Linked DNA regions of Homo sapiens. The protein of the gene in region 2 interacts with the protein of the main gene of each other region in a pairwise test. Each region holds a gene or a part of one and is shown on either strand. Other genes may lie near its edges.

The links. Proteins that work in one complex are often made in the same cells at the same time.
Region 1: the proteins of RNLS (region 2) and ATP2B4 interact in binary tests that used the Homo sapiens proteins (3 or more experiments, as listed by UniProt).

Annotation. Positions count from the first base shown.
Region 1 is NC_000001.11:203,706,832-203,713,857, reverse strand, and holds part of ATP2B4 (plasma membrane calcium-transporting ATPase 4), read right to left. Parts: intron 6,850-7,026; coding exon 6,635-6,849; intron 5,997-6,634; coding exon 5,754-5,996; intron 4,558-5,753; coding exon 4,316-4,557; intron 2,982-4,315; coding exon 2,750-2,981; intron 1,899-2,749; coding exon 1,719-1,898; intron 694-1,718; coding exon 606-693; intron 1-605. UniProt on the Homo sapiens protein: Calcium/calmodulin-regulated and magnesium-dependent enzyme that catalyzes the hydrolysis of ATP coupled with the transport of calcium out of the cell. By regulating sperm cell calcium homeostasis, may play a role in sperm motility.
Region 2 is NC_000010.11:88,573,312-88,580,337, forward strand, and holds part of RNLS (renalase isoform 1 precursor), read right to left. Parts: intron 1-7,026. UniProt on the Homo sapiens protein: Catalyzes the oxidation of the less abundant 1,2-dihydro-beta-NAD(P) and 1,6-dihydro-beta-NAD(P) to form beta-NAD(P)(+). The enzyme hormone is secreted by the kidney, and circulates in blood and modulates cardiac function and systemic blood pressure.

The DNA.
Region 1 (7,026 bases), on a different chromosome or scaffold from region 2:
TTCCTCATTTGTAAAATGGGAATACCTGCCCTGCCTAGTTCACAGTACTATTGGTAAATAAGACATGATCATGTTTTTAAGAACCCATGCAATTGCCAGGTGCGGTGGCTCACGGCTCTAATCCCAACACTTTGGGAGGCCGAGGTGGGCGGATCACCTGGGGTCAGGAGTTCGAGACCAGCCTGGTCAACATGGTGAAACCTTGTCTCTACTAAGAATACAAAAATTAATCAGGCATGGTGGCATGCGCCTGTAGTCCCAGCTACTCGGGAGGCTGAGGCAGGAGAATCACTTGAACTCACGAGGCGGAGGTTGCAGTGAGCTGAGATTGCACCACTCCACTCCTGCCTGGGTGACAGAGCAAGACTCGGTCTCCAAAAATAAAAACAAAAAATAAAAAAAATAAAAACCCAACAACTTTATTGTGTGTCATACTCACCAAGGGCTCAGATGTTTGCTAACTGTATGTTCTCCCCACTAGCCTGGGAGCTCTCCTAGGACCTCCCTATTTGGACAGGAGAGTGGCTTTGGCTGGTGGTTCTTATCTGTCCTCGCCCTGGCCTGCCTTCAGCTGTTGCAGGCACCTATTTGGAAGCCAACCTCACCTTTCACCAGGGTGTGCTTGTCAGTGGGAGAAGATCGCGCCAGGACCCGAAGCTTAGGCCAGATCTTGTCCAGCTTTTCTTGCTCTACCTGCCAACACCAGACCACACCTGGATCAGTCAAATGCAGAAAAGCTATCCAGGAAAATCTTAACTTCTCCATACACTTGGAGTCACTGGGAGATTGGGTACACCACAGTCCCACATGAAAGTGTTATTCTGGATTAAGCAGAGATGAAACAGCCAACCAGTCTCCAAGGGTAGATTCATGGATGATGACCATTCAGGCCCTGCTTTTTTTCTTTTTCCTCCCAAGTCCCTACCTGGCAGCCAATCCCCCATTTCCCAGACCTTTAATGGGAGGTGGGCCAGGGTTGGCTGTTGGCTCGGGTGGGTAAAGTGGTGCTTCTGAGGTCTTAGGTTTGATTTCTATGTAGCTCAGGAAAGCTTGGATCTGTGCCACCGCCAGACCACATTCTCCTTTAGCCACTGTTAGCCAAAGGGCAGGGACACAGGAGGGGTGGGCTAGGGGGAAGTCAGTATAAAAAACTGAAAAAGCAGAAAGACAAGAAAAGTTAGTGACACTGTCTCAAAAGATAGCTTGTGAATGAAGCTAGCAAGCTTCATTCACAAGCAACTCCCCCCCTCTTTTTTTTTTCTTTTTTGAGACGGAGTCTTGCTCTGTTGCCCAGGCTGGAGTGCAGTGGCATGATCTTGGCTCACTGCACCCTCCGCCTCCCAGGTTCAAGTGATTCTCCTGCCTCAGCCTCCCCAGTAGCTGGGACTACAGGTGCACGCCACCATGCCCAGCTAATTTTTGTATTTTTGGTAGAGACGGGGTTTCACCATGTTGGCCAGGATGGTCTCTATCTCTTGACCTTGTGATCCACCCGCCGTGGCCTCCCAAAGTGCTGGAATTACAGGAGTAAGCTACCGCGCCCAGCCGGCAACTCCCAATGTTACCATATCAGCAGTTTGGTACAAGGAGATGTTTCACTACGAATAGCTTTCACTTTAGAAACCACCCACCTTCCCGCACATGACCCAGATGCCTTATGCTAGAACCCGCCTTTTCCTTGTCAGGTGAGGTCCTGGTTCCCCCTAGCCAGGACCCACCTCGCCTTTCTCGTTGCGGATGAGCCGGTTGAATTCTTTGCCTTCTAAGCACAGGAAGTCATCCCCAGGTGTCAGAATGCCACATTTGGTGGCAATGGCCCGGGCTGTGTTGATGTTGTCACCTGTCACCATTCTGACAGTAATGCCAGCTTGTTTGCATTTGGCAATAGCATCTGGCACCTATGGAGAGTGAAGAAAGGGGAAAGGCGCAGATGAGGGTGATGACCCTGGTAAGCTGTCCCTGTTTGTCTGTCCCTTTGTGGCAGACAGGAGAAAGGCACCCTAGAAGTGGTGCCATGCAGCATGGGCTAGGTCTGGTCATTTTGATACTGTTGGGTGCCACCTCACTTCTGTCCTACCCACGGCAGTCACATTTGAATTTGCCCTATTGTACCATGAGTTGAAGGGGAAATTTGCTTTGGGAGTGAGGTGTAAAAACTTGCTCTTTCACTTACAATTGAGACTTCTCGGCAGGGCATGAATGGCATTTTGCGATTTGGCCAGTGCTTTCTTTTCTAGCAGAAGCTTTTGCCACTCTCCACCCACCTGGCCCATGTTCCAACCATATCAGCTCTTTGTAATTTCCCACATGCATGACACCCTCTCATGCCTCTGGGCCTTGAGAATTAATAGTCCATCTGTCTAAACTTCTTAGAAGCAGAGACTTTTCAATCCCCTAGTGTCTAGAATAGTTATCAGCACACAGCAGGTACTCAAAAAGAATGTGTTGATTGAAAGGAGGGAGCTAAAGACAAAGTTGGTGTCCTGGCTAAATTGACCTCCTGACAACACTTAAGTACCAAATAATGAGCCCAATAAGCCCTTTGCTTCTCAACACTCAGACAGCATTAGTCCTAGGAATGCCACATTCGATCATACTGGCACTCCACAGCAGTCCTGTGAAGCAGGAAGCACAGAAACTTCTATCCCTCTAAGTGAGAGGCAGTTAGGTTACCTGCCTGGGGTCACAACTAGAAAGGGAACTAGTACCCCACTTCCTGAGACTCCTGGGTGGCTTCCCACCCTCTCACCTCTGGGCGCACAGGGTCCTCAATGCCCACCACCGCGATACAGGTCAGTTCGGTGAGGATCTCATTCTCATTGTCCCAAGAGGGCTCTGTGTCATCGAAGTCCCGGTAAGCTATGCAGATAGTCCGGAGTCCATCACAGGCCATGGGCTCGATGACAGTGCGTACCATATCATCTCTGTCTTTATTCTTGAATGGCACTGCTTCCCCTTTCCGGTCCAGGATTCGATTACACCTGGGGAGGCGCACAGTAAGAACGCGGTGTCTCCCTTCCCACTCAATACGTTTCTACAATCATTGACAGGTATTTTGGCAACTCTGTATTATTCCTAAAGACATTGCTCCAAGTGTGGCCAAACATTTCCTTCATTCATCACCCAGCTGAGTCCCTCTTTCCAAGGTAGGTGGGCTGTGGATGGAGTTAAGGTCTAGATATATAGAGAGTGGGATTCTCCCATGTCATCTGTTCTTACCCATATGTGAATGCAATGCAAGTCATTTGTGAATCACCTGCTCTTTTGAACTTCTTGAAGGCAGAGAGACTTTTTCAATCCGAGTATTTAGAATAGTGCTCACTGTGTGGTGCTGGTGGTTTGGGGGAGGTTTCCTATACAAGAATGTGCTGATTAAAAGAAGGTGGCTAAAGCCATGTTGGAGCACTGGTTAATTCAGCCCTACTTAGGTATAGTGCCAACTTTTGATGAACTATGGGTAATTTATTAATAGTCACTTTTTTTTTTTTGTAATGGAGTCTCACTCTGTCACCCAGGCTGGAGTGCAGTGGTGCGATCTCAGCTCACTGCAACCTCTGCCTTCTGGGTTCAAGCGATTCTCCTGCCTCAGCCTCCTGAGTAGCTGGGATTACAGGCACGCACCACCATGCCTGGCTAATTTTTGTATTTTTTTTTAGTAGAGACAGGGTTTCACCATGTTGGTCGGGCTGGTTTCGAACTCCTGACCTCGTGTTCTGCCTGCCTCGGCCTCCCAAAGTGCTGGGATTACAGGCGTGAGCCACTGCGCCTGGCCGAATAGTCACTTTTAAAGTTATGTAAATTCCCTGTAATCAGAAATGGGAATGGGAAGGAAAGAGAAGGAAAAGAGAACACAGAACAAACGTTTCTAGTACTTGTTATGTATAAGGCATTTTACATACATTGAATCATTTAGTTACAGTGAGGGGGTAGTACTTTTAGGAGCTGAGTATGGCTATCTCTGTTTTCAGATTAGGAAATGGAAACTTAGGATCGTCCAGGTCTGAATCCTGGCTGTGCCACTATTAGCTGTATCACCTTGAGTGAGATACTTAACTTCCTTATATCTCTGTTTTCTCATCTGTAAAACAGGGATAATCATAGTACCCACCTTACTGAGTTGTGAGGATTAAATACAACAAGCCACCTTAAGCACTTAAAAAACATGCGTGGCCTGAGTAGACGCTTGGATATTAGTTATTATGTCACCACCTGGCTGGAGGGCTCCCTCATTCACATGGGTTCAGTGTGGGGTGTGCACCCATGCCTTCCTGAGGAGAGGATCTTGAAGGGAAGCAGAGTGGTCGGGGGTGCTCACTTGCGCAAGATGATCTCAGAGGCGCCCTTGCTGTACATACGGAAGCCACCGTTGGGATTCCTGATGACGGTGCTCATTGACTTGCGCACTGAGTTAAAGGTGTACACCTTGTAGAGCTTCTCCTCGGGCACTTCATTACGCACAGCCTGATAATCCTGCTTCAGATCTGTGACAAAGCCTAGCAGAGCACACTCGGTCTTGTTGCCCACCTGCCGAGGCAGGCCTCCCTCCTTCTCTGGAGGCTGGGAGAAGAAATATACACAGCACTATTGAGTAAGATGCCTTGACAAGGCAGAGAACTTAGGGAGAAAGAACTCATTTACAAAGCCTTCACATTATATACCTGGAGCTCATAGGGGAAATAACATTTTTTTTTTTCTTTTTTGGAGATGGAGTCTCGCTCTGTTGCCCAGCCTGGAGTGCAGTGGCACGACCTTGGCTCACTGCAACCTCCACCTCCCAGGTTCAAGTGATTCTTCTGCCTCAGCCTCCTGAGTAGCAGGGACTACAGGTACCTGCCACCATGCCTAGCTAATTTTTGTATTTTTAGTAGAGACCGGGTTTCACCATGTTGGCCAGGCTGGTCTTGAACTCCTGACCTCAGGTGATCTGCCCACCTCAACCTCCCAAAATGTTGGGATTACAGGCATGAGCCACAGCACCTGGCATCTTTTTTCTTTTTCTTTTTGACATAGCACCTTGCTCTGTTGCCCAGGCTTGACTGCAGTGGTGTGATCTCAGCTCACTGCAGACTTGACCTCTTAGGCTCAAGTGATCCTCCCACCTCAGCTTCTGGAGTAGCTGGGACTACAGGTGCGCAACCATGCCTGGCTAATTTTGTTTATTTTTGTAGAGATGAGGTCTCACAATATTGCTCAGGCTGGTCTCGAACTCCTGGGCTCAAGCGATCTTACCATTTTGGCTTCCCAAAGTGCTGGGATTACAGAAGTGAGCCACTATGCCTAGCCTGTTGTTTTTCAAGGGTAGGCAGAGAGGGGTCAGTGGTAACCGTGATCCTTGTGCCATCCAGGGCTTAGGGATTTTGTAGTTTGCTCTAGTGGTAGTGCTGGTGTCTCGCCTTGTGTGGGTCTTATTCTAATACACTATGCTTGTTTCTAGAAAGTGAGTAATTTACTTCTGATAAGCCCAATTCTACTTTGGGTTACTTTCTACTTTCCCTCCTTAGAGACATTGCTTTTACATGCTAATTGGGAGGGTATTTCCTGGCCATAGATTCTTACAGGCCCTTACCTCCAACCCTCCATTGACTCCCAGGGATTTTTCTGTAGTCTCACCCAAACATGTTCACTCCAGCGTGAGAAATGGGATGTGGGATGGCAATTTAGGCAGTGTAAACAATAAGGGGGTTCATTTCAGAGAAAATGGATGTTCCCTTCCAACCACCCACTCTAAGTGTCTACGCAAAGGAAATGCTTACCAGAATCTTGGAGGTATAAGCACTGTTGATAGAAATGCCATTGACAATGAGGTCCAGGACTTTGGGCAGGAAGACATCAGGGCTTGGGATTTGACGGTAATGGATGCCCCCAATATAAGCTTGTACCACAGTCATGCGGTTCATGGTCAACGTGCCTGTCTTATCAGAGCAGATGGCGGTGGCGTTGCCCATGGTCTCACAAGCATCCAAGTGCCGTACTAGGTTATTGTCTTTCATCATTTTCTACAAAGGAGAAGAGAAAAGACTTGAGAGGGGGACTAACTGGACTCTCCTAAATCTAGGTCAAAGGCCATTTCCTAGCCAACATCTCTCCACATTTCATCTTCCAGTCCCACACAAAAATCCAAGATACTGACTGGGTGCAGTGATTCATGCCTGTAATTTCAGTACTTCGGGAGGCTGAGACGGGCAGATCACCTGAGGTCAGAAGTTCAAGACCAGCCTGGCCAACATGGTGAAACCCTGTCTCTGTAAAAGATACAAAAAGTAACTGGGCATGGTGGTGCACACCTGTAATCCCAGCTACTTGGGAGGCTGAGGCACGAGAATCACTTGAACCCGGGAGGCGGAGGTTGCATCATTGCATTCCAGCCTGGGTGACAGAATGAGACTCTGTCTTAAAAAAAAAAAAAAATCCAAGATACCATTTTTGTCATTCTCTTAAGATTCTGCTGGGTCATTTCAACATTGATGCATCTGACAGAGATGGTCCTTCCATAATACCAGGGACTTCTGCTCTTGTGAGGCACCAGCCAAAGTTTATAGATGATAGAATGGCTTATCTTTTCACTAAAGGTTACATGGTACCCTTCTCTCCCATCTCTATCCTAAAGGAAGAGATAGGATTGTTCTAGTCTCACCTTCACAGAGTAGGCCAGTGAGATGGTGACAGCCAGAGGCAGCCCCTCTGGCACAGCCACCACCAGTACAGTGATGCCGATGATGAAGAACTTGACAAAGTACTGGATGTAGATGGGAGTACACTCAGGGAGCCATGGTCTGCGATTTATCACAAAGTTGTCAATCACAAAGTATAGAATCAGGATGAAAACCGTGAGAGCAGACATGAGCAGACCTGTCCAGAGAAACAAGTCATATGAACCCAGGCTGGAGGGCAGTCCTAGGGCCCTAGCCAGAGATAGATTGGCATCAGTTGTAGCCTTTGTTGCCAATTATTAAAACCACCATCGCCAGGAAGACTTACTAAAATCCCCCCCATTCTCTGTTGCTTGTACATTATAGCATAGGGAAC
Region 2 (7,026 bases):
AAATAATAACTATAGCTACTTTTCATTAAGCAGCTACTATATGCCAGCTGCTTGGTACACATTATACTAATTTATCTCACAGACAAGGAAATAGATTGAGAAATAGCATGCCATGATTTAAAACTATAACCATCTGACTCTAAAGCTCATCATTTTTGCAGAACAAGTATACACTTCAGTAAACATGTGTGTTAGCAATGAAATAAGAAGAGCAATATTCTCTATTAAAGGAATTAATATTTCCCATTAAAGGACCTGAAAAAGGTTCTCTGTAAGGGAAATGCAAGTTCTCATCAATAGATCAATTGTCTTCATTAAGAAGAATCAGAATTTAGAAACATACTCTAGAGTACCCTCCCATAACATTTTCCTTCTTAGCACTTAACACAAGGATATTTTAATAATTATTTCTTTAATATTGTCTTCCCTTTTAATCTGTAAGGCCCATGAGCTACAAATTATACCTGTTTTATTTCTATGTATAGCATATAGTATACATAGCATAGAATTTATTAGTTAAGTATTTATTTAAAATAATGAATTATGAGGCCAGGCACGGTGGCTCACACCTGTAATCCCAGCACTTTGGGAGGCTGAAGTGGGTGGATCACTTGAGGTCAGGAGTTTGAGACCAGCCTGGCCAACATGGTGAAACCCCATCTCTACTAAAAATACAAAAACTAGCTGGGTATGGTAGTGCATGCCTGCAATCCCAGCTACTAAGCAGGCTAAGACACGAGAATCGCTTGAACTCGGGAGGCAGAGGTTGCAGTGAGCTGAAATCGCACCACTACCCTCCAGCCTAGGCAACATAACAAATAAAAAGAATGAATTATGAACCATAAACTGAAAGAAAGTACAATTGGGTCATTAAGTCTCCTTAGTAAACTAGTACTCACCTTCCAGTTTTCAAAAAATTTTGATTTACAAGCAAATCTACTTTTATTCAGCTTTGTGTATAGAAAAAGAAAGAAATGAAGATGGAATGAGGGAGGAAAAAAGCACACTGAAAGATCCTGTTCATCTTTACCTGGGAAATCTCACGTTCCTAGTCACTAAAAATCCAGCTAAAGTTCATCCCAAAGCTTCCTTTCTGTAGCCACTCCAGCTCAGTGTGATCCTTCCTCTCTATGATATTCTTCAACCATCACTGCCTTTAGTACTAATTTTGACATTGATTCAAAATATCTGCATGCTTTAGTTGTATCTTATCTATGTAATAATACTCAAGGCTCCTTCATGTCGGGTCTTCAGATCTCATACACTTTCATCTCTTTCATTGACCCTTAAATAATGCTACACCCTAGTAAGCACTCCAGTTTTTAAAAAATCAAATGTAAATGTTAGAAGAAACATAGTTCTAGCTAGCCCAAGAGATCAATCTCTGTTCAAGACAGTGTGCATCATTCTGTTCAAAGATTAGAGCAAGGGGCTTGTAAACAGTACTCCATCTTGCCTGAGGGCTTTTCTAAGGCCCCTGCTTGGGGAAGGTGCAAATAATTTGCACTTTCAACACATATCCACCATCTCCTTTATTCCAACAAGGGCAGCTCTGCTTCACTCTGTTTTTATTTATTTAGGATGCCTCACCCTACTTGCCTCACTTAGTCCATGGCCCTGTCCCAGACCTCAGCTAAGTTAACTGATTCTACGTTTTCTCATAATATTCCTTTGAAGAGAACAATATGCTGTTATTGTTGGTGGTATGAGTGTGTGTTTAAGGGGACTTAAGTTCACAGTCCTAGAAAATTCTTCATGCCCCAGATGAACGCCTTGAAAATGTATCCCAATGGCCACAAGGTGTTCTGCAAAGTATATATATATATATATATATATATATATATATATACACACACACACACACACACATATTATATATATATACTATATATATATGTGTGTGTATATATATATATATATATACACATATATATACACCAAGGTGTATATGTATATGTGTGTGTGTGTGTGTATATATATATATGTCAGTGGTTCTCTAAGTATGAACCCCAGACCAGCAGCACCTATGTACTAGAAAATGCACATTCCTGGGCCCCAACCCGACCATACTGAATAAGAAACTCTGGGAATTGAGCCTCGCAATCCATGTTTAACAAGCTCCCTTAGTCTTGTCATGATGCGCGCTAAAGTATGAGAACCACTGGGGTAGGTGGACACGCCCAAATCAAACACCACTGGCAAAACCACCCAAAAAGCAGCATTTATCAAGAGGTAGGAGAAATGGTATAGCCTCTCTTATTAACCAGAAAGGCTTCCTTTCCAACTGCTTGGAGCAAAGTTTTTGGGAAAGTGGCATTTCCTTGTGAAAGTAATTAATAACTTTCACAAAGACTATGTGTTTAAATCTATAAGCTCTGAAAAACCCAATTTTAAAATGGATAAATAAATAGTCTCAAGAGTTATGTCTGAGCTTAGTAAATTTGACCATGTCCCTCTCTTGCATAAAACCCTTCAATGGCTTCCCATCGCACTTAGAGTATAAAATCTTTAACATTGCTTACAAAGCCCTGTATAACCTGGCCCTGCCTTAGTCTTGAGCATCATCTTTTACCATTTTCTCCCTCACTCACTACCGTCCAGTCATAATGATCTTTTATTCCTTGAATGCACTAACCTCCTCCTACTGCTTCAAAACAGTTCCAATTTGATGTGTCCACTGCATTGAACTCTCATCATTCAGCTCTCAGCCTAATTCCCTCTTGCCCACCTTTCAGGTACCCATGAAAATATCAGTTCCTCAGGGATGCTTTCCCTAACACATCTCCCCCATCACTCCTCTAAAACCTACTGGGCTAGGTCCTTTTATTGTAAGTTCTCTCATAATGCTCTCACTCTTTCTTCTTAACATTTATCATGCATCTTTTCTTTGTATGTATAATTAGTTTAATGTCTTTTCTTCCCACTATACTCTACATTAACAGAGGCCAGGATCATGTCTCTTATTGACTTTTGTTTCCCCAGCACATAATATTTAATTAGAATAAAATGATCTTCAGATAGCTATAAAGATATCAGAAGTCTAAGAAGGTTTAAACATTTTACAAAGGCAAATGTGTTTCTGTTATATATTTATTCAATTTTATCCCTGGCCTTCCTCCATTTTAAGGAGAAAATCCAAGTTTATGTTTCTCCTATGATTTCCCACAAATAGGTTTTAGTGAGCAGCAGTCAGAACTGCTCAGGTGGGACCTGAAGTGATGTGAACCATCTCTAACTGACTACACAGCTTGAAGTAAATAGAAGAATGCTTAACCTGGTTTTCATGCCATCCTCTAGCTTCTCTAAAAAGGACATCGTTACGGATGAGTGCCAGGATCACCTGCTGGGAGAAATTTTGAGACAGAACCACCCAGACTCACTTCCCCTCTATCAATTTTAGAAAGAAAATAGGCACAAAAGTAAAAAGAGAGAGAATAATAAAAGTAAATATTACAATACAGAAGCCATCCTAGCTAATGGCATCTGCCACCTAAACCATTTTTTTCTAATAAATTGATCTTGTCAATTTTGACAGGTTACTTTGCAAATGTTGACTTTCTGGATCGCTAGCCAATGTCCTTTTTAGGTAGATGATAAAATAAAAACAAATAAATGCAGCAACAGCCCTCCCTATTGGTAGGACAAGCTAAATAAAAGCTGCTCACTCTGTGTCCTGGAAGCTAAATTCATCTTTTTTGAATAATTTAGTAACATGGGACCTTATTCAAAAGCAAAAGGACCTGGCCCATCATTTTCCATGTCATAGGCAGGAACCATCAGGTGACCAATTTCCCAGGTTGCATAAAGAACTAAGGTGGTATTACTCTTCAATATCCACTTCCCCCTATGTCAGGAATTAACTGATGAAAGAGGGAAACTAGGGGCACAGGGAACTATGAGGTTGTTCTATTGAACCATGTGTCTACTGACACGTAGCACCAGGTGGGATGGGTACAATCTTCATACTATAGGAAAATAATCAATAAGGAAAGAGAAGGCTCTACAAAATAGATGTTAAATTGGAGAGTATGAGCACCTCTCATTGCCCTCCATGAGAGACTTAATAGAAAAAAACAACATGATTAATTGCAAAGGCACTTCAGTTCTGTTACCAACTAGCCAAGCCACCTTAGACAAAGTACCTGAGTCTCATTCTTCGCATTAACAAATAGGGATGATGATTAACTCCCTTGAAAATTTACTGTGAGAATTAGAAACTACATACGTAAAGTACCTCAGGTAGTATTAGATAAATAGTCAGCACTTAATAACTGATAGCTAGAATCACTTTTGCTATTGTCAATTCTCACCCCAGCATAATGACAACTAGTATAAAAAAAGAACAAAAGAAAATCATGTTTCACTCACTCAAGAAGATTGTATTAATGGAGAAGGCAGGCAGTCAGTGAAATTGATGCCAATAAATACAGCTTTCTCTGCAATGAGGTTAATGTGAACACATCGGACAATAAATTAAAATAGAACATAAGGTCAAGAAGAAAGCATCTATTTCCTTTACCTTTTACTATTTGTTCTGGGAAATTGGTCTAGTTAAATATTGGCTTTAAAGGTTTGAACCTATTCTAAAGCATGCCTGATTAGGCATATCCCAGACAAATAATTGCCCTGGGAGTCTGGTCCCAATCTGAATGACCACTGGTTGGTCCATCAGATTGTGGGGTTTTAAACTCAACTAGATTCCAAAATATAGAGTATTTTTGAAAATAGTTGGCAATTTGATTTCTTAAAGTAAGGAATATATGAAGGTCAGCTTCATTCAAGTACAATATTTTTTAAACTAACATTTTTCAAGAGATTACTATGTGACTGGCTTACTACTTGCTTGAATTTGAGTGCATTATATCTTTCATTCCTCACAACACTTTGTAGCAAGAACTTCCATTACAATATTCTGTAGTAAGTACCCTCATTTTTGCATTTCATTACGCTCATTTTTTTCAATGAAAGAACTGAGGTACAGATTTTAAACTTTCCTAATATTACATGAACAGAAAGGGATGGTAGGACATTAACTGGAATCCAGGTCATTCTGATTTCAGGGACTGTCTTAGCTTATAGTGTGGAAAAACCAAAATGTTTTTGTGGACCATTTATAGAATAGAAAGGTTAAAGGGACTTAAAGAATGTTTAAAAGGGATATAATTATAAAATTAAAAATATTATAGATAGGGTCCAACAAATCCTATAGATAATAGATCGGGGTAGAGGAGAATCTCGAAGTATTACAAGAATAACATTAAATAGCATTAAAATAAACAAAGAAAAATTTATATAAACTCAAGTTAAATAGACCATGAACTTGATATAAAATAAATTTTTAACATTTATATCACTCTACCTACTATGTAGGAGGTACTATTAGTTTCTGAGTGAGGTACAAGGAATTAAAAATAATCTCTTCTCTGAAAAGCTTAAAAAGCAAAATTGGAAGTTAAAACGTATGTATTCCCCCAAACACATAACAAAATAAGGAGATAGATGCAATGTATTCAAAGATGTTTCTCTGCCAGGACATCAACTCCATGAAGGCAAGGACATTGGTTCTTGTATCATTAGTACCTAGAACAATGTTTGGCATTATGGTAAGTATTCAATGAATGTTTATTGAACAAAAGGATATGTGTATGTATGTATATATGCATGTGTAGGGGTGAAATTTCAGTAAAAATCAACTGACAAAAGGCATACTAATATGAGAAAAAGCATACAAATTTATTTAATCATAGTTTTGCATGACACTGAAACCTTCAGACTGAAGACCCAAAGATACAGGAGTCCATTTTTATGCTTAGATTCAACAAAGTATGGACAGCTCTGCAGCAATATGATTGGACAAAGGGTTATATCTATGGCTAACAAACTGGTAAAACCCACCAAGGCCTGTCTGTCTAGATTCTTCTTGTCCTCTCTGTGCAGCATTCTTTCTTTATGGTTATAGGTCATGACCCTCTCTGGAACTGTTGTGAGCTACAATCAAACACGGTAGGTCAGATAATTTCTTTATGGCCAGTTTTTACAAAGGAAGGCAGGGGAAAGCTAGAGTGATAGTTTTAGGTTTTATGGCTGGTTTGGGGGGAAAAGGGGTTCTTATTTCTACGACCTGCCTTGGGAAAAGAGATTCTATTTTCTAGGGCTAGCCTCAGGGATGAATGCAAGGCCAGAGATAGGAGGGCAGGAGAAGGTCAGAGAGAGCTACTTCTGAGGGCTCCATTTTGGGATATCATTTTCTAAGCTCCTGCACATGCATGCATGCACGCATATCAGTTAGTAAGTACCTGATGATTTCAATAGGTATACTCATCCAACCTGGGTCAGGGGAAAATCATGGTGGAAATGAGATTTTTTAAAGTGATATGGCCACACTATATGAAGCTGATAGTAACATTCTACAAAACGTCCAATAGTGTCACCATCTGTGATGGTCAATTTTATGTGTCAACTTGACTTGGCCATAGGATGCCTACATATTTGGTCAAACACTATTCTGGGTGTTTCTATGAGCACGTTTTTAGAAGAGATTAACATTTATTATCAGTAGATCAAGTAATGCAGATTGCCCTCCCTAATGTGGGTAGGCCTCATCCAATCAGTTGAAGGCCTACATAGGACAAACGCATTGATCCTCCTTCACATAAAGGAGAATTCTTCCTGCCTGAAAGCCTTTGAACTGGCTCATCAGCTTTTTTCCAGCCTTCAGAGTAGAACTGAAACATTGGCTCTTCCTGAGTCTTGAGCCTGCCAGCCTTTGGACTAGAAGTATACCACCAGCTTTCCTGGGTGTCTACCTTGCTGGATCACCCTGCAGATCTTGGGACTTACCAACCAACATAATCATGTGAGCCAATTCCTTATAATAAATCTCTCTCTTTATCCATACTCACATATACACATGCATGCACACATACATACACACACATACCCTATTGGTTCTGTTTCTCTGGAGTAGTCTAACATACCATCTATATACTGAATCTCGAATGGAGAAATGGTCTAAGCCAGAATGGT